Linked DNA regions of Homo sapiens. The main gene of each other region encodes a partner of the protein of the gene in region 2 in a complex. Each region holds a gene or a part of one and is shown on either strand. Other genes may lie near its edges. A codon is read from its position in the direction of its gene.

Region 1 (9,300 bases), on a different chromosome or scaffold from region 2:
TTAAAACACAAACTATTTTTCTGTCTTTAATGCCATATGGAGTGTGGGGAAAAACAGAATAGAAGATTTAAGAGCAAATAACTGAAAAGATCAGCATATTGCAAAAATGTTTCTGCAGCAAACTGCAGACAGAGAAGCATAGAGAACTATTAGATAATATTAACAGATAAGCATGTGGTAACACAAAGGAATGGATGCCTGAGAATACAATGGTAGCCTTCCTTACATGAGAGGTAAGAATCATCAACAGCAAGCCAATAGCCAAAAAATAAGGGGGGAGGCGGGGAGTTCATTTCTCGAGTTTCAGTCGCCTTCAGAAGAAGACATTTAATGCCAAGGGGAACCTCTGTTTAGCCTTATTCAGGAGGACTTCTAATCCTTACCTCCCCAGGAAAAGCCTGCCTACAGCTCCAAGTCCAACATCTGGTCAAATCTATCTCAGCTGTATTTGTTGAATTAAATGAATGGGGAGATAAATACTTTATCATAGGAAAAACTAAAATATTTGTGTCAAATGCCAGAGAGGAATGTGCATAAGACAACTGTCATATTTGCGTGGTCTGTGTTTGCTACATCTTTGTTTACAAAGTCTAATGCCAAAGTAAGAGCAAAAACGTTATTAGTGAAGATCCCTTTGAAGACTTTTTTTTTTTTTTTTTTTGAGAAGAAGTCTCGCTCTGTCGCCCAGGCTGGAGTGCAGCGGCATGATCTCTGCTCACTGCAAGCCCTGCCTCCTGGGTTCACGCCATTCTCCTGCCTCAGCCTCACGAGTAGCTGGGACTACAGGCGCCCGCCACCACGCCCGGCTAATTTTTTGTATTTTTAGTAGAGATGGGGTTTCACTGTGTTAGCCAGGATGGTCTCGATCTCCTGACCTCATGATCCACCTGCCTCGGCCTCCCAAAGTGCTGGGATTACAGGCGTGAGCCACCGTGCCCAGCTGAAGACATATTAAAAGCTAATCAAATAACCAAAATTTTTTGGCTTCACTTGGCAGTGGGGTCAGAAAACTGATTCAAAGCCACACTTTACTATAAAGAGTTGTTCTCTGATTACAGGGTTGGTGAGCTTAGACACAGTTGGCACTAAAAAAAAATTTTAAAAAAAATTGCCCCAAGTGGTTGCTAACTACCTAGAAGGATATACTAATAAAACTATTTTTAGACTATCTTCTACATTCCACCCTCTGTTTACTTATGCAGTTCTACCACAAATGTAAAATCCAAATCTTCCCTTAAAGAAGGGAATCTAGAAAGTTGTGGGAGATAGGGTAACACAGCTTTTCTATGTAGAATGGTACTGAAACTATGGCCAGTACACTATCAGTGCTACATTAAACTTTCTTGCCAGCTGAAGAAAAAAATCCAGCATGCCAAATGTACCTTTGCTCAAAGACATGGCAGTGCAAGGTAATTACAGTAGTGACATGGACTACCTCTTGAGTGAACAAAAAAATGCTACCAGAGTCGGCCGGGCGCAGTGGCTCATGCCTGTAATCCCAGCACTTTTCGGAGGCCGAGACAGGCGGATCACCTGAGGTAGGCAGTTCGAGACCAGCCTGACCAACATGGAGAAAACCTGTCTCTACTAAAAATACAAGATTAGCTGGGCATGGTGGCGCATGCCTGTAATTCCAGCCACTCGGGAGGCTGAGGCAGGAGAATGGCTTGAACCCGGGAGGCAGAGGTTGCAGTGAGCCGACATCGCGCTATTGCACTCTAGCCTGGGCAACAAGAGGGAAACTCCGTCTCAAAATATAAATAAAATAAAATAAATGCCACTAGAGCAAAAGGAGAAACAAGTTGAGTGTTGAAGGTTACTCTTTAAAAGATGTGATTAATTAGAAACTGTAATATTATCTTCTACACTCTCTGAAGAGCAAACCATACAAATGCTGTTGTTAAAATTAACAAAGCCTTAAAGTTAGCCAGAAGAACACCATCCTTTGGGTTACTACTGATTCACCAGCAGAGATGAGAAATAACTCTTTCCAAAAAGCCTCAAGTTCTACCGCCAAATTATTCCACAACAGAATTTCTGGCCAAGATCATTCACCTTTTAAAAATTCCTTGAGGACAGGAACCACGCCTATCTCCCTGAGTCAATGTCCCACAATGCCTGATACATTGCTGATACTCAATGGATACTCAAAATACTTAATGAATGAATAAAAAGGTGCCTATCATTACTCTAAACTCAAACATTATATAAAGCCACAGTACTTATTACTCACTTAAATATTTTAGGCTAGGTAGCAAAGTTAAAAAAAAAAAAGACAAATATGAATACAACAGGATTGTGAACGCTAAGCTTTAACTTAGCCGGTCCCTTCTTCAGAAGAAGTACTCCTAACTCACCTTCCAGTCCTTAAACTCAAATCTGAACAAACCTTCCCAAGTTTGAAGAGAGAAACACACTAAGAGGAGACTTTATTCATCCATGGATGAGAAATCATGTGCTTCATCAGCTGCTTAAGTCACAAGAAAGAGACAAGAGTCCGTTCTTTAGGAAACCAAAGATGCAGTATTTTGAATAGGGAAGAACCAGCCGGCTGGACAGCCATCAACTAAGGTTGTAAGAAAGGTTCACTAGGCAGGTTTGCCAGGCCTACCTGCAAAATTTTTCAAACCTCAGTTAAGTACCCTGCCGGTATTCAAGAGCTCCTAATTCGGTGACACTACACCACAATATGTGTGATAAGTCGCAAACGGCATTTCTTATGGCTTTAAGGGAGAACTGATGCTACCAGAAAGACTTTCAAATGACATCAATAGAAAGAAAGGAGGTGGTGGGAGGCACTGAGGTACAGATACCAGGTAGCAAAAGATAAACCAGCAAGCTTCAGGGGTACGTGAAAGCAGTACAACCTAGAAATTTAATACAGTGCTCTGGAGTCTGACTGCCTGGGCTTGCATCTCTGCTTCGTAACTTATTAGCTGTGTGACCTTGGCCAAATGGCTTAGCCTCTCTGTTCAACTTCCCACTGTGTTAAGTGGGCACAACAGTGGTACTTCAGAGGGTTGTTCAAAGAACTAAACATAATGATCTGTTAAAAGGTCTTGCCACGCTGCCTAGCATACAATAAACGCTCAAATATTTGCTGTCAATATTCTCAATATTCCCCTTATGACCCCATTAGGTATCAAGCCTAAAATGAATGCAGAAAGAGGCCCCAAACACGGTCGGAATGGAAACACAACTCTACATCCAACTACCATCTTTCCTCGATTAAGTTGAAAAACTTCTCTCAGGATTTACCGTAACATGCCTAGGACAAAAAGCTCCCTGTCTCCCAGCGCCAGAGGCGCCTCAATGTACACAAGTGTCGAGGCGAGCCCAGCGCACGTGACCTGACTCACTGCCTTGACTCAGTTGCCGTCAGGGAACTCCCACTAACAGGGTCAGGCTGTTCAACTGAAGAACCGGATGGGAACGCGGCTCGGCCCCCAGCGCCTGTGACCCATGCCCGCCGGGTGGGCACGGCGGCGGGCGGCGTGGGCTCTGACACCCTCCTGCTCGCCGCGCTAAGGAACTCCACTGGCCAGCGCGTCCTGCCGCGGCGCAGGGCCGCCCAAGTCAAGGAACCCTCTCGGGTCTCTGAGATCCAGGCCAACAGTAAACAGAGCGTCCGAGACGGGTGGCCGGGGCGGGCAACCCGGCCAGAGGTCACGCCCGACGACCTCCGACCTCTCCAAGCCGGGTGGGGTCTTGGCCTGCTCCGGGGGCCTGAGCGATGCCGGGTGTGCCCGCGTGGCCAGGGCTGGGACTGGAGCCTGCCCAGGAGGACAGGGAGGACGCGAGGCCCTGGCGACCGAGGGGCTGAGGGGGGGGATGGGGCCAGGCCGCCGGCCGGGCTGGGCCCGCTGCTTACCGCGGCCGCTGCGCTGGGGGCTCCGGGCCGGGCGCGTCGCGAGGGCTCCCGCCGAGGAGGAGACTAAACGGAGGACAGAAGCGAGAAGGTCCAAGTTCTGGTTCCAGGGAACTCTCCCGAGCTCTCCAAGCCGCCAACTCCGCCGCTGCCGCCGCCTCAGGCTTTATGGCCAAGACTCCAGGCCCGCTCCCACTTCCGCCACCGCCGCCGCCCCGAGCGGAAGTACCTGTCACGAGACGCTCGACGCCAGGGTGCGGGGGAGGAGCCCCGCCTCAACCTTGCGTCACGTTCCGGCTGCCTCGGGACTGAGCCTGGATCTCGTGCTACAAACATGTCTGCCCCCAAATGGTTGTCCCCATCTTTGAGGCTCATACAAGGAGCAGGACGGCGCCATGTTGGACCCACAGACAGATTCCCTCAGCCATCCCTCCTTACTCCAGAATAAATAATGCCACCGAAGAGGGGACAAGGGGTAAACTGGCCATTCCAGTTGTGTCCTTCTTCGAAAGGCATCATTTATCCTTACTTTAATTACTTAACCAAAAATTATTATCACCATTTTACAAATAAGGAACTGAGACTCAGTATATCATGTCACTTGGTCTAGCTCAACACAGAAACTGGTGGAGCGAGGTTTTGAACCAAGATCTGTCTGATGCCAATATGTGTTATCGTTCTAGTAGACTGCAAATGACTACAGCAATTGTGTGGCTCGGTGATAGAGACAGGAGAAATAGGCACTTTGTCTGGCAGAGGAGACAGCCCAAGAAAATGGAAAATGAGCTAAAGCCTCTCTGAACTTAGTATTAGAGAAGATGTGATAAAGATGGACCGGGTAGAACTCTTCTTGTAAGCACAGAGCAGCCTCCCAAGCACCAGCCCCATCCGAACACATCAGGATCCACTCAGAATTTTTGCCTCCATCTTCAACAATGCCCTCTCATAGTCTTTTCTTATTTTGGTTCATGCAAGCTCCATTCTTTCAATTGTTCCATCCAAAAACCTTGCAATTGTTACAGTAAGTAGTCAGACCTGAGCAGGGCAGGAGAGGGGCCACTCCCCGACCAGCAATGTGAGGCAACCATGACGTGGTTGTCAGGTTAAGCTGTCTCTCTAAAATAATAATTGGTTGCAGCCAGACCAGAGAAAGGCAGTCTCCCAATAGATAAAAACACCTAAAACTGGTGATCAGCAGCTTCCCGATAAGATCTCAGGAGTTGAGGGGTCTGGGGAAAAAAAAAATCTCAAAAGCTAGGCAAGCAGTCTCAACCCTGAGATGGTACAATGTCTGGGGTTTCCCCTACTTTTTCAACCAAAATTGGCTCTTTCCCCAAAACCCTCACCACCTATTCTCCTGTTTTCTCTATGTGTATTCTGAAATGGCCTTGCACACTGCAGAACCATCCGCCTCTGGGGTAAGTCCACTCTTTCTCTGCTTTCACTTTGCATGTGCCCAGGAGTTCAAGACCAGCTTGGGCAACATAACAAGACTGTCTCTTCCAAAAGATAAACAAAAAAGAAAAGAGAAGGCACACATCTACATCAGACCTCTGCAGTTGTACTTCTCTCTACCTGGAAAGCTCTTCCTCCAGGTATCTGCTTGGCCACTCCCTCACTTTCCTCTGGTCTTGACTTTAAAGTAACCTTTTCAGTGAAATAGCCTTCCCTATTTAAAACTGAAGTCCCTCTCCCTGTCACCACAATACAAACACAAAAATTGACATCTCCCTACTGCTTTTCTCCTCTGTTTTTTCTTTTTTATTTTCTTTTTCTTTTTTTTTTTTTTGAGAAAAGTTCTTGCTCTGTTGCCCATGCTGGAGTGCAGTGGCATAATCAGGGCTTACTGCAGCCTTGAACTTCTGGGCTCAAGTGATCCTCCTGTCTCAGCCTCCTGAGTAGCTGAGACCACAGGCGTGCACCACTATGGCTGGCTAATTTTTTTTTTTTTTTTGTAAAGAGAAGTTTTCACTATGTTACCCAGGCAGTCTTGAACTCCTGGTGTCAAGTAATGGTGTCAAGTAATCCTCCCGACTCAGCCTCCCAAAGTTTTTCCTCTTATACTACTCACTTATTTGCATATTGTCTGTCTTCCCCACTAGAATGGCAGCTCCACAAGGCAGCTATTTTTGTCTGTCTCATTCACTGCGATATCCCTGATTCTTGAAACAGTGTTGGGGTACAGTAGGTGCTCAATGTGTACAATTTGCAGAGTATTCAGGGGAATGAAAACTGAAAATAGTTTCAAAGGCCAAGAGTTATGATAATTCCACCCCGTTAGGCAGCCAATCAAAATGCTAGGTTTGAAGGTAAAGTAGCAACTGGGAATGCAGTAGTCCTCATCCCCAGGTTTGGCAGGGCTGACTGCAGGATTTGAGCATCTGAGTCCTAGAACCAATCCACCACAAATAGCAAGGGACAATTATACCAGAAAAGGCAGAGCACAAAAATAAAATGGGACATGTGGGCCCCAGCCTTCTAAGAAGCCTTCTGAGAAGGCTATTCAGATGCAAACATGGACTATTTCCTATGGGAAAGAAAGGACAACTTAGAAGAAACCCATGAGCCAAGAGGATAGAGCCAGGAGCTGCAGATAATCATTCCCAAGGAGCAGGAGGGGACTCGAATCAAGGAACTGGCATCACGTGCCTCGCTGATTTCAGAATTACTATGACCCAGTGGCAGCTGTCGCTCCTGTTTTTTCCCCTTTTGAACAAAAGTGTCTACTATGCTTATCTTCTTCTTGCCAACTCTGTATGCTGGGTCCGTGGACAGCAGATAACATCTCTAGCTCACAGGCCTTCAGAGGAACAGTGCTCAGAGCCGTTCTTAAGGAATTATATCTGAGGAACCTCATCCACATCTGGACCCAATTTACATGGCAAGATCCATTATGAGCCAGTGATGTATTGGGATTGAGACTTTTAGGGTTCTTGGGGGAGTTAAGTAGAGCAGGGCCTCCAGTAACATCATTTCAATTATAACATTGATGAGAAAAAATTGATTCCTGGCTGGGGCCCCTGTCTGTGTAGTTTACACTCTTTCCCCATGTCTGAGTTTTCCTTGGTTCCTCTGGTTTCCTCCCACATCCCAAAGATGTGCCCTTTAGGTGAATTGGCTTGTCTGAATTGTCCCAGTCTCTGTGTGTGTGTGTGTGTGTGTGTGTGCACGTGCGCACACGTGTACACAATGGGCTGGCATCCTGTGCAGGGTTGGTTCCTGTCCTGAGCTGCCAGGATAGACTGGCCACCTGTGACCCTGAGATGGAATAATTGGATAAATAATTATCTTGCTCATTTTCATTAATCTGTCTTAAATATATATATAGTTCACATTTACTTTAATATTTAATATTAGAAGTGTTTTGGTCTTTACCAGCCTGACCAACATGGTGAAACCCCGTCTCTACTAAAAATACAAAAATTAGCCGGGCGCTGTGGCACGTGCCTGAAATCCCAGCCCAAATCCAAGGGACATCTTGGCTTTAGCACAACCTACTCTCTTGGGAACTAATCAATTCCTGTGAGAACTCATCCAGCCTCACCAGAGCCAGAACTCACTCACTCACTCACTACCTAGAATGGCACCAAACTATTCATGAGGGAACCCCCCCACAACTCAAATACCCCCAACTAGGCCCCACCTCCCAAATCTCCACACTGAGGAATCACATTTCTTTTTTTTTTTTTTTTTTTTGAGACAGAGTTTTGCTCTGTCGCCTAGGCTGGAGTGCAGAGGTGCTATCAGCTCATTGCAGCCTCCACCCACTGGGTTCAAGCAATTCTCGTGCCTCAGCCACCCGAGCAGCTGGAAGTACAGGCGTGCACCACCATGCCCAAATAATTTTTGTATTTTTAGTAGAGATGGAGTTTCACCAAGTTGGCCAGGCCCATATTGAACTTCTGGCCTCAAGTGATCTGCCCCCCTCAGCCTCCCAAAGTGCTGGGATTACAGGCGTGAGAGCCACCACTCTCAGCCTGCCTGGATCACATTTCTTTTTTTTTTTTTGGAGGGGGCAGAGTCTCGCTTTGTTGCCCAGGCTGGAGTGCAGTGGAGCAATCTTGGCTCACTGCAACCTCCATCTATGAGGTTCAAGTGATTATTGTGCCTCAGCCTCCCGAGTGACTGGGATTACAGGCACCTGCCACCATGCCCAGCTAATTTTTGAATTTTTAGTAGAGACGGGGTTCGCCGTGTTGGACAGGCTGGGCTCAAACTCCTGAGTTCAAGTAATCTGCTCTCCTCAGCCTCCTAAAGTGCTGGGATTACAGGTGTGAGCCATTGCACCTGGCCTGGGATCACATTTCAATATAAGATTTTGGGGGCACGAACACATCATATCCAAAGCACAGCAGGTATGTTGGAGGAGATTAGGAGTGAGAAGTTCAGTTCTGGAAATGCTGAGACAGAGGACTTCCGTGAAACATCCAAGTGGAGATGGGGAGGAGGCAGTTAGACATTTTGGGCTGAGGCAGAGATGGGAGTTGGGTTTCTGGGTCCTTCAGGGTAGCCTCAGCTGAAAATAGAAATTTAAGAGTAGATGGAAATGAAAGTAACGGGTGTTAACAGGATTGCCCATGGAGAAAGTGGACAAGTACATCCTTCTTTCAACAAACGATTTACTGAGAATCTCCTATATGCTAGGCTTTTTGTTAGGTTCTAAGGACACAAGGAAAACAAGGCCATTGATATCAAGAGCCTTACTACTTAGTGTGGTACACAATGTACAAACGTACACACACACACACGTCCCTGCACAATTTTCATTCAAATTTCTATCAATAGGGAACTGGTAAAAAAGGTATGGTACATCTTGACAATGAAATACTGTGCAACTATAAAAAAGCAATAAGATAATTCTCTATATATTGGTATGGAAGGATCTCCAAGAGATATTGTTACATGATAAAACCAGATGCAGAAGAGTATCGGGGAACCTGCCCCCGATAGTCACATAGGTTTTTTTCTATTTTCCCTAAGCATCGGCCAGGTTGAGAAATAAAGGGACAGAGTACAAAAGAGAGAAATGTTAAAGCTGGGCGTCCGGGGGAGACATCACATGTTGGTAGGTTCCGTGATGCCCCACAAGCCGCAAAACCAGCAATTTTTTATTAGGGACTTTCAAAAGGGGAGGGAATGTACGAATAAGGTGTGGGTCACAGATATCATGTACTTCACAAGGTAGTAAGTATCACAAAGCAGATGGAGGCAGGGCAAGATCACAGGACCACAGGACCGGGGGCAAAATTAAAATTGCTAATGAAGTTTTAGGCACCATTGTCATTGATAACATCTTATCAGGAGACAGCGTTTGAGAGCAATCGGTCTGACCAAAATTTATCAGGCAGGAATTTCCTCATCCTAATAAGCCTGGGAGCGCTATGGGAGACTGGGGATTATTTCATCCCTACAGTTTCGACGACAGAAGACGG
Region 2 (9,854 bases):
TGGGGGCAGAGGTTGCAGTGAGCCGAGATCATGCCACTGCACTCCAGCCTGGGCGACAAGAGTGAGACTGTCTCCAAAAAAAAAAAAAAAAAAGACGTTTCTCAAGAAATTATCTTGTCTTAGCCAGGCTTGAGTGCTCATGCTAGTAATACCAGCACTTTGGGAGGCCAAGGTGGGAGGATTGCATGAGCCAGGAGTTGAAACCAGCCTGATCAACAAGAGACTGACGCCATCTCTACCAAAAAAAAAAAATTTAAAACAGGTGTGGTGGTACACGCTTGTAGTCCCAGCTTCTTGGAGGCTGAGGCAGGAGGCTTGCTTGAGCCCGGGGGTTTGAGGCTGCAGTGAGCCATGATGATGCCACTGTACTCCAGCCTGGGTAACAGAGCGAGACTCTTGTCTTGAAAACAAGGAAAGAAATTATCTTACAGAGTCTCGAGGAAGAGAGATACAGCAGTGTCTTCGAATAGTATGGGAAGCATCCCTGTTTTAGGGCTTCAGTCTGACTCTTGGCCATTGTTTCTCACTGTTGCCATTTCAAACAGGGCATTTCTTTACTGTCCATACATGGGAAGAATTTTGAACATCCGAGACCCTAAGTATCCGAGACTGCTGCCAACACACACACACACCTTCCTCCCCTCGTCTCCCTCCCTGTCATCGTGGCAACCAAAATTATCCATAGGGTGACGGACAATACCACCTCTGATTAAGAACCAGTATTCTAGGGTTTCTGGGGTTTCCATTTCTGAGAACAGTTCCATGCCAGAGCATTGTTTTGGTCAAGGAAGCGTAGGGTTTATGGATGCTAAACAGTGGGAAGGTGCACACGCAGTGTGCTGTCCCGCTTGGATCTGACGAATCTTGGAAGTGTTAGTGCACCTCCGTTTCACACTTCCTGTAGAAGCAGCTCTTGTGGATTGTCTGGGGCGTGAGTATAGGCTGTCCTGTCCTACCAAGTTACACCCTTTCCATTGAGGCAGAAGTGACCAAGGGGAAGGGATCCTTGTAATATAACCCACACCATCCCCACAGTGTGAACGTGGCATCACTGACACAATCAGAAATTCGAGACATCATCCTGGGTATGGAGATCTCGGCACCGTCACAGCAGCGGCAGCAGATCGCTGAGATCGAGAAGCAGACCAAGGAACAATCGCAGCTGACGGCAACACAGACTCGCACTGTCAACAAGCATGGCGATGAGATCATCACCTCCACCACCAGCAACTATGAGACCCAGACTTTCTCATCCAAGACTGAGTGGAGGGTCAGGTACTGTCGGGCAAGAGGGTGGGGATGGAAAGGCCGGCTGCACTACCTAAGGTGCTGGGCTGAGCGATGCTGACACTCCCTGCCTGTTTTTAGGGCCATCTCTGCTGCCAACCTGCACCTAAGGACCAATCACATCTATGTTTCATCTGACGACATCAAGGAGACTGGCTACACCTACATCCTTCCCAAGAATGTGCTTAAGAAGTTCATCTGCATATCTGACCTTCGGGCCCAAGTGAGTAAGTGGACTCAGCTAGGCCACAGTGTGTGCCCAACTCATTTTGTGCCTAAAACTCAGACCTGAGATTGTCTGGAACTTGAGATGCTGGTTTCAAGATTCATGGATGAGTAATTATACAAGGATAGCCAAAACAACGAGGTGGGTTTTGGCCCCATGAGATAGCAAAAGCTGTGGCAGCTGAGAGAAGGTAGTAATTGTAGTATTGGCCTGATAGTATTTGGAAGAGAACAGATATGGTCAGAAACAAATTCCTGACCAGGTGTGCGTGCTGGCTCATGCCTGTAATCCCAACACTCGGCTGGGCACAGTGGCTAATGCCTATAATCCCAGCACTTTGGGAGGCCTAGGTGGGTGGATCACCTGAGGTCAGGGGTTTGAGACCAGCCTGACCAATATGGTGAAACCCTGTCTCTACTAAAAATACAAAAAATTAGCCAGGCATGGTGGCATGCGCCCGTAGTTGCAGCTACTAGGGAGGTTGAGACAGGAGAATTGCTTGAACCCGGGAGGTGAGGTGGAGCTTGCAGTGAGCCAAGATTGCATCACTGCACTCCAGCCTGGGCAACAGAGCAAGACCCCGTCTAAAAAAACAAAACCAAAAAAAACGTGGCTGTAGTCCCAGCTACTCAGGAGGATGAGGTTGCTTGAACGCAAGCAGTGAGCTTTGATGACCCCACTGCACTCCAGGCTGGGCACAGTGGCTCATGACTGTAATCCCAGCACTGTGGGAGGCCGAGGTGGGCAGATCTTTTGAGCCCAGGAGTTCGAGACCAGCCTGGGCAACATGACGAAATGGAGTCTCTACAAAAAAAAAAAAAAAAAACTAGCCAGGCATGGTGGCATACACCTGTAATCTCAGCTACTCAGGAGGCTGAGGTGGGAGGATCACCTGATCCTGGAGGGTGGTGAGTGTAGTGAGCTGAGATCATGTCACTGCCTGCTAGCCTGGGTGACAGAGTGATACCCTGCTTCAAAAAAGAGAAAAGATGCATAACTTTACTAGTGTATCAGGGATATTATAGTTTATAAAACATCATTTTGGGCCAAGGTGGGTGAATCACTTGAGGTCAGGAGTTCAAGACCAGCTTGGCCAACGTGGCGAAACCCCGTCTCTCTTAAATATATGAAAATTAGCGGGGCATGGTGGCATGTGCCTGTAGTCCCAGCTACTCAGGAAGCTGAGGCAGGAGAATTGCTTGAACCCAGGAGGCGGAGGTCGCAGTGAGCTGAGATCACACCACTGCACTCCAGCCTTGCTGACAGAGTGAGACTCCATCTCAAACCCACTATTTAGTGGCTGTCAGGTTGGCAAATTTGAAAAGATTGTTAATATCCTGTGTGGGTGAGTTTATAGTAAACAGATCCTCTTTCTTTCTTGGTGATAATGTAAAACTTAAAATAGCACCAAGTGCTGGTTTTCCAGATGTTTTCAGCTTGTGAAAATACACTGAGCTGCATGTGTGCTCATTTGCTTGTGAATACTATGCTTAATAATCAGCTGGGGAGCTTGTGAGCAGTGCAGATTCCTGGACCCCACTCAGGAGATTCTGATGTGGTAAGTCCGCGATGAGGTCCATGTCTAACATTTTGAACAAGCACCCCAGCTGATTCTGATACAGGGGGTTCTGATCACGTTTTAAGAAACTCTGTCCTCGTTCTTGGGGGAAGGAAGGAAACAGAGGGCTGGCAGCTCCAACTCTGACCTGGTACTAAGAAGAGTTTTGGTTCCTGACCCCTTTGTCTCCAGATTGCAGGATACCTATATGGGGTGAGCCCACCAGATAACCCCCAGGTGAAGGAGATCCGCTGCATTGTGATGGTGCCGCAGTGGGGCACTCACCAGACCGTGCACCTGCCTGGCCAGCTGCCCCAGCATGAGTACCTCAAGGTAATGGGGAGTGATGGAGCCTGGGAGTGTGGAAAAGCTGGTGCGATTCCTGTCTGTGGATGGGATTCAGCTCTGTACTCCTCTTTACCTATAGGAGATGGAACCCTTAGGTTGGATCCACACTCAGCCCAATGAGTCCCCGCAGTTATCACCCCAGGATGTCACCACCCATGCCAAGATCATGGCTGACAACCCATCTTGGGATGGCGAGAAGACCATTATCATCACATGCAGGTGGGCCTGGGCTCCTTGGGAGGAAGTATGGTGGGGCAGGGATTGCAGGCCAGGGCCCAGAACAGTGGCCTGAGCTGTTACTCTGTCCTCGTTCCTCCCCCAGCTTCACGCCAGGCTCCTGTACACTGACGGCCTACAAGCTGACCCCCAGTGGCTACGAATGGGGCCGCCAGAACACAGACAAGGGCAACAACCCCAAGGGCTACCTGCCTTCACACTATGAGAGGGTGCAGATGCTGCTGTCGGACCGTTTCCTTGGCTTCTTCATGGTCCCTGCCCAGTCCTCGTGGAACTACAACTTCATGGGTAAGTGGGAGGAGCCTGGGGATGTGGGGATAGCAGTAGGGATAAGGTGAGGCCATCGCCCTTTGCACTTGGGGCCTGGCTGGCTTGGAGGTGGCGCAGGCTGCATGAGGCAGGAGCCCTGTTAACATTGGCTGTTTCCTTCTCCCCGAAGGTGTTCGGCATGACCCCAACATGAAATATGAGCTACAGCTGGCGAACCCCAAAGAGTTCTACCACGAGGTGCACAGGCCCTCTCACTTCCTCAACTTTGCTCTCCTGCAGGAGGGGGAGGTTTACTCTGCGGATCGGGAGGACCTGTATGCCTGACCGTTTCCCTGCCTCCTGCTTCAGCCTCCCGAGGCCGAAGCCTCAGCCCCTCCAGACAGGCCGCTGACATTCAGCAGTTTGGCCTCTTTCCCTCTGTCTGTGCTTGTGTTGTTGACCTCCTGATGGCTTGTCATCCTGAATAAAATATAATAATAAATTTTGTATAAATAGGAGTTCAGGGGCTGGTTTGTTTTTTTTTTCCCCCCCAAACTCAAATTCTGGATTTAGGTCTAACAGGAGGCTGGACTGGAGCGGTTCACAGCAAGATGCTGGGCTCGGCTGTGAAGGGGGGAGTATGAGGCCCCCTTCCTATTCAGGGCTTTGGGGTAGATAGCCCCTGGACTCAGTGGAGACCTGAGGCAGGGCTGGGCTTTCACACTCCGCTGCCTTGACCACATTTGCTGCTTTTTCCACAAAACTACTTGGAAGCTCTCGCCTCCTTTCCACAGTTTTGGGAGCAGTTGCCCTTTCCCGGGTCTAGGAACTCTGTGGCTTGTGCTGAGCGGCTGCGGTGTCCAGCCCAGCCCTTTAAGCTTTCTGTGTCAGTCCTGGTCAGGAAAACAAGCACACAGGCAGGCAGTTTGTGTACAGCCGGGCGGAGGCCAGAGACCGGCTGCCTACCTGTCACCTCTCGCCTGGAGCGGGCCACTGCCAAGTTGGCCCCATGACTCCAAACGGGCGGAGCCTGGATTGGGCCTGTGGGGAGGGCTCCACTCAAGTGACCACTTGCAGCCCTGAACCTCAGCTCTTGGACGCCTGGCTGGAAGTTGGCTGTCTTGTTTCCTGTGACCTTGGGGGTGGAAAGGACAGAGCCCAGGCGACCTAGGGCACTATCTCCCTACCCCACGCCTTCTCCCTTCCTCGTTCCTCCCTACCCTTATCGCTTCTACCCCGCCCACACCGCCCTAAACGGCTTCCTGGGGCGGAACTGTTTCGCTTTTCCCCGTCCCAGTGGAGGGTGGGGTGGGGGGGTCGCAGCCCTAAGCCTCTGGGAGACATGGAGCCCAGGAGGGCGGCGCCCGGGGTGCCTGGCTGGGGGTCTCGGGAGGCCGCGGGGTCGGCATCGGCCGCGGAGCTTGTGTACCATCTAGCCGGGGCCCTGGGCACTGAGCTGCAGGATCTGGCGCGCCGTTTCGGGCCGGAGGCGGCGGCCGGGCTGGTGCCGCTAGTGGTGCGGGCGCTGGAGCTCTTGGAACAGGCTGCCGTGGGGCCCGCCCCGGACTCGGTGAGTCATGGCCCTCCCTTCGCCACCCACGGGGCCGGCAGGGCCGAAGCCTGAGACCCGGGTCTCCCCAGCTGCAGGTGTCGGCGCAGCCGGCGGAGCAGGAGCTGCGGCGGCTGCGGGAGGAGAACGAGCGCCTCCGCAGGGAGCTGCGCGCGGGGCCACAGGGTAAGCGCAGCCCCGGCCAGGGCAGGGCGGGTGACGACCTGCTCGGGTCCTCCCCTCCCTCCCGCGGGCCGCGCGCCGCCGCCGCTAAGAACGCCCCTTCCTCAGAGGAGCGCGCGCTGCTGCGGCAGCTCAAGGAGGTCACGGACCGACAGCGGGACGAACTCCGGGCGCACAACCGCGACCTGCGGCAGCGCGGCCAGGAGACCGAGGCGGTGAGGGCGGGGCGGGGCTCTGGGGCGGGGCGGGGGCGGAGCGTGGCAGGCGCTGGGCGGGGCTCCGGGGGCGGGGGCGGAGCGAGGCAGGCGCTGGGCGGGGCTCCGGGGGGCCCTCGGTGCCCCGCCCACCCCACCCTTTGCTCCGCTCCCAGTTGCAGGAGCAGCTGCAGCGCCTCCTGCTGGTGAACGCTGAGCTGCGGCACAAGCTGGCGGCCATGCAGACCCAGCTGCGCGCCGCGCAGGACCGCGAGAGGGAGCGCCAGCAGCCTGGCGAAGCCGCGACTCCGCAGGCTAAAGAGCGAGCGCGGGGGCAGGCCGGGCGGCCCGGGCACCAGCACGGACAGGAGCCCGAATGGGCGACCGCCGGCGCAGGCGCCCCAGGGAACCCTGAGGACCCGGTGAGTGCCGTATGAGGGCAAGGACCCAGCCCAGGACGCAGCGTCCAGCCCTCGGTGGGCACTCAAGCAAGGTTTGCATGCTGCACAGCAGGTCGGCCAGGAAGCGGGGAGGTGGCAGACAGATCTGCGCCCCCGGCCGGCCTCGGCCCCCGCTCTCAGCTGGAGCACTGCTCTGTTATCTGTTAGGGCACCCTTGTCCCCCAAGTCTCCCGGCCCGTCACTTCCTCTAGCATTCCCATGATGGCCCTGGGGCGGGGGAACGCCAGCCGAGGCGACCCTCTGACTGTGCCTGTCCTTCCAAAGGCGGAGGCCGCGCAGCAGCTCGGGCGCCCCTCGGAGGCAGGGCAGTGCCGCTTCAGTCGGGAGGAGTTTGAGCAGATCCTTCAGGAGCGGAATGAACTCAAAGCCAAAGTGTTCCTGCTCAAGGAGGAACTGGCCTACTTCCAGCGGTGAGGACGCTGGGAAGCCGGGGGGCCTCCGATCACCCCACCTCATTCTCCAGTCATTGACATGTCCACAGTGACATGTGCCAGGCCTGCGCTGGGAACTGGGAGGACATGAATTGTACAGCCCTTGCCCTCCTGCAATGTCATCCAGACAGGGGAGAGGGACAGTACAAAGGGTTGCAGCTGCAGCAGCCAGGGAATCTCTCCTAGGAGGGGGCCACGGGGCCACCTAATTTAAGGTCTGAGGGTGTCAGCAAGGCAGAGCGCTTCCCGTGTTCAGGGAAGAGCTGCGTGCACAGGTACCAGGAGTGAGGACTGCGGCTGGCATCTCCACTGCTGGCATCCCCATGGCTGGCATCACCAGGGCTTTCTCCCTCCCTGCCCCTTTTCTTTAGGGAGCTGCTCACAGACCACCGGGTCCCCGGCCTTCTGCTCGAGGCCATGAAGGTGGCTGTCCGGAAGCAGCGGAAGAAGATCAAGGCCAAGATGTTAGGGACACCAGAGGAAGCAGAGAGCAGGTAGGTCCCTGCCTGCATTCCCACGGAGCCAGGCCTCCCTCCCTCATTCTGCTGAGCCTGATGACCCAGCCTGGTCACCCTCTGAGCCCATTGTCTCAGACTGAGGCTGTCACCCCAACCCGGTCACCCCTTGAGCCTCCCTAGCCTGGCCGCTTCTAGGGCCTGCTGACCTGCTCTGGCTGTGTCCCATGGCCGCTGTCCAGCCTGCGCCCTTCTCCCTGGATCTCACCACTCCCCTTGCCTTGCCTGCCATCCATTCTGCCTGACAACACTGCCTCTCCACATTCATTCTTCAAGTTCCTGTCTTGGCTGGGTCTGTTTATTCTTACGGGGGTGAAACTGTAGCCGCGGCTGTGTCAGGGCCTGCTGTGTGTCAAGCTATAAAATAAACCCTTGGCAGGGCGCGGTGGCTCACGCCTGTAATCCCAGCACTTTGAGAGGCTAAGGTGGGTAGATCACCTGAGGTCAGGAGTTCGAGACCAGCGTGGCCAACATGGTGAAACTCCGTCTCTACTAAAAATACAAAAATTAGCCGGGCATGGTGGCATGTGCCTATAATCCCAGCTACTCAGGAGGCTGCGGCAGGAGAATCGCTTGAACTTGGGAGGCGGAGGTTGCAGTGAGCTGAGATCGCACCACTGCACTCCAGCCTGGGCGACAGAGTGAGACCCTGTCTCAAAAAAAAAAAAATTAAAAATTAAAGGCTCGACATCCTGCATCTCCCCAGGGTTGCCTTCTCTCCAGCCCCGGGGGCCCTGCAGTCCCTCCATCCCCCCTGCTGGATTCCTGTTGTCCCTCAGGGCCTTGATCAATGGCCCTCACTTCTCCTCTCTCCTCTGTCTCAGTGAGGATGAGGCTGGCCCATGGATCCTGCTCTCCGATGACAAGGGAGACCATCCCCCACCCCCGGAGTCCAAAATACAGAGTTTGTATGTTGGGGAAAGGGGAAAGGCAAGAGTGTGGGGAGGGAGGAAGGGCCCTGGCTGGTCCTTCTCAGGATCCCCTTTCCCGCTTCTCTGCCCGTCACCCTGCTGTGCTTGGCTCTAAGCACACCGTCCCCTCCTGCTTCTCTGGCCCTGGCCCCCATCACCTTCACACTCCCTCAGGCTGCCCTTTCTTCCCCCTCTCCCCTTTTCTCACCATCCCCTGCCCTCACCCATATCCTTGACCTCTCTGGCTTCCTGGCTCAAAGTGCCTCTGGCTGTCTCTCTCCAGCTTTGGCCTATGGTATCGGGGTAAAGCTGAATCCTCTGAGGATGAGACCAGCAGCCCTGCACCCAGCAAGCTAGGGGGAGAAGAGGAGGCCCAACCACAGTCTCCAGCTCCTGATCCGCCCTGTTCTGCCCTCCACGAACACCTTTGTCTGGGGGCCTCAGCCGCCCCAGAGGCCTGACTTAGGGGTCTGGCTGTGGAAGGATGTGTGGCCTCAAATGAGGACAGGGCTCCCGCCTTCACAGCCCTCGCCAGGGGTCTGCCCCAATCCTGGCCTGCATCAGGGCAGGACGGGGTCTCAGCCCGCCTCCCTCTCTACGTCTCTGTACCGAGCCTCTGGGGCCAGATATAAGAGTGCCTCTCTGAGTCTCAGTTTCCCCATCCATGAAATGAGAGCTGACTGCCTAGCTCCCAGGGCTTTGTGCAGACGGCCTGAGCTCATGTAATAAAGAACTGCCCGTAATACACAGAAACTGTTCCTCGCCTGTCTGTCCATGTCTGTGCCACCTCCCAACCCTGCCAGGAGCAGAGGCAGGCTGAGGGGTCCTCGCTGGTCTCCTTGCTCAGTCACTGGGTGGGGTGGCTTCTTGCAGCTCAGGCCTTGCTTTGGGAGTGTGGCCTGATGGAAAGCCGTGGCTCCCAGCCTCAGTCCACCCCCTTCCCTGGCCCCGGCACCCAGGGACCTGCAACTTCATTCTTCTGGCCCTTCCAGGCCCAGGCCAGTCAGCCCTGCCATTGCCTTTCTTTCCCTTTCTTTTTTTGAGTGTCAGTCTTTCCAGCCACCCCCTCCCTCTCAGGGAGGTGCCTCGTGGCAGCCCGCCCCTCCGGCCTGGTTTCCTCAGGAAAAGCCCTGAGAGGAAGCAGGGAGGGGGTTGGGAGCTGTGGGGGCCAGACGAACCCGAGCGCTCCCACCGAGCTGCCTGCCATGGGGCTGGGGCTGCTGCTCCCGCTGCTGCTGCTCTGGACTCGGGGGACTCAGGGGTCCGAGCTGGACCCCAAAGGGCAGCACGTCTGTGTGGCCAGCAGGTGGGTCTCGTGGGAGTCTGATGCGTGTGGCCAGCAGGTGGGTCTCGTGGGAGTCTGATGCGGGTGGCTGAACCGGTGTTGAGGCCGTTAGGGGAAGGAGGAGACTAGGAAGGGGGCTTAGGCTGAAAGGAAGGGACTGCTGATGGCGGTCTGGCAGGTAGTGGCCAGCCAGGGCAGATGGTGGAAGGGTCAGGGAAGGAGAGGGGAGGGGCTGGGGACCCTAGCTGTAAAGATCCATTAGGCCTCCCCAGGGGGCTAAGGCAGCCTCCCCCACTGCAGCCAGAGACAGTGATCCACCTTCCTCAGGGCCAGGCTGCACCCCCCACCATGTCCGGCTGACCCCTTTTTGCCCCACAGCCCCTCTGCTGAGCTGCAGTGCTGCGCAGGCTGGAGGCAGAA

Evidence for each region.
Region 1: the proteins of RILP (region 2) and RAB7A are in contact, whole or in part, in a crystal structure (PDB 1YHN), measured with the Homo sapiens proteins. Residues at the interface, in NP_113618.2 of Homo sapiens: Phe248 (codon at 6,623), Glu249 (codon at 6,626), Leu252 (codon at 6,635), Gln253 (codon at 6,638), Arg255 (codon at 6,644), Asn256 (codon at 6,647), Lys259 (codon at 6,656), Ala260 (codon at 6,659), Phe263 (codon at 6,668), Leu264 (codon at 6,671), Glu267 (codon at 6,680), Glu268 (codon at 6,683), Tyr271 (codon at 6,692), Arg274 (codon at 6,701), Glu275 (codon at 7,096); in NP_004628.4 of Homo sapiens: Ser3, Lys6, Leu8, Ile41, Gly42, Ala43, Asp44, Phe45, Leu46, Thr47, Thr58, Trp62, Ser72, Leu73, Val75, Leu182, Tyr183, Asn184, Glu185.

What each region holds. Positions count from the first base shown.
Region 1 is NC_000003.12:128,720,931-128,730,230, reverse strand, and holds the start of RAB7A (ras-related protein Rab-7a), read right to left. Parts: upstream 4,049-9,300; 5' UTR 3,872-4,048; intron 1-3,871.
Region 2 is NC_000017.11:1,645,198-1,655,051, reverse strand, and holds RILP (rab-interacting lysosomal protein), read left to right. Parts: upstream 1-5,185; 5' UTR 5,186-5,247; coding exon 5,248-5,475; intron 5,476-5,546; coding exon 5,547-5,640; intron 5,641-5,745; coding exon 5,746-5,852; intron 5,853-6,007; coding exon 6,008-6,253; intron 6,254-6,556; coding exon 6,557-6,702; intron 6,703-7,094; coding exon 7,095-7,217; intron 7,218-8,062; coding exon 8,063-8,146; intron 8,147-8,432; coding exon 8,433-8,610; 3' UTR 8,611-8,902; downstream 8,903-9,854. Other genes in the region: PRPF8 (pre-mRNA-processing-splicing factor 8), read left to right, coding at 1,036-1,275, 1,369-1,510, 3,264-3,404, 3,499-3,638, 3,742-3,944, 4,096-4,250; SCARF1 (scavenger receptor class F member 1 isoform 1 precursor), read left to right, coding at 9,355-9,455, 9,813-9,854. UniProt on the Homo sapiens protein: Rab effector playing a role in late endocytic transport to degradative compartments. Involved in the regulation of lysosomal morphology and distribution.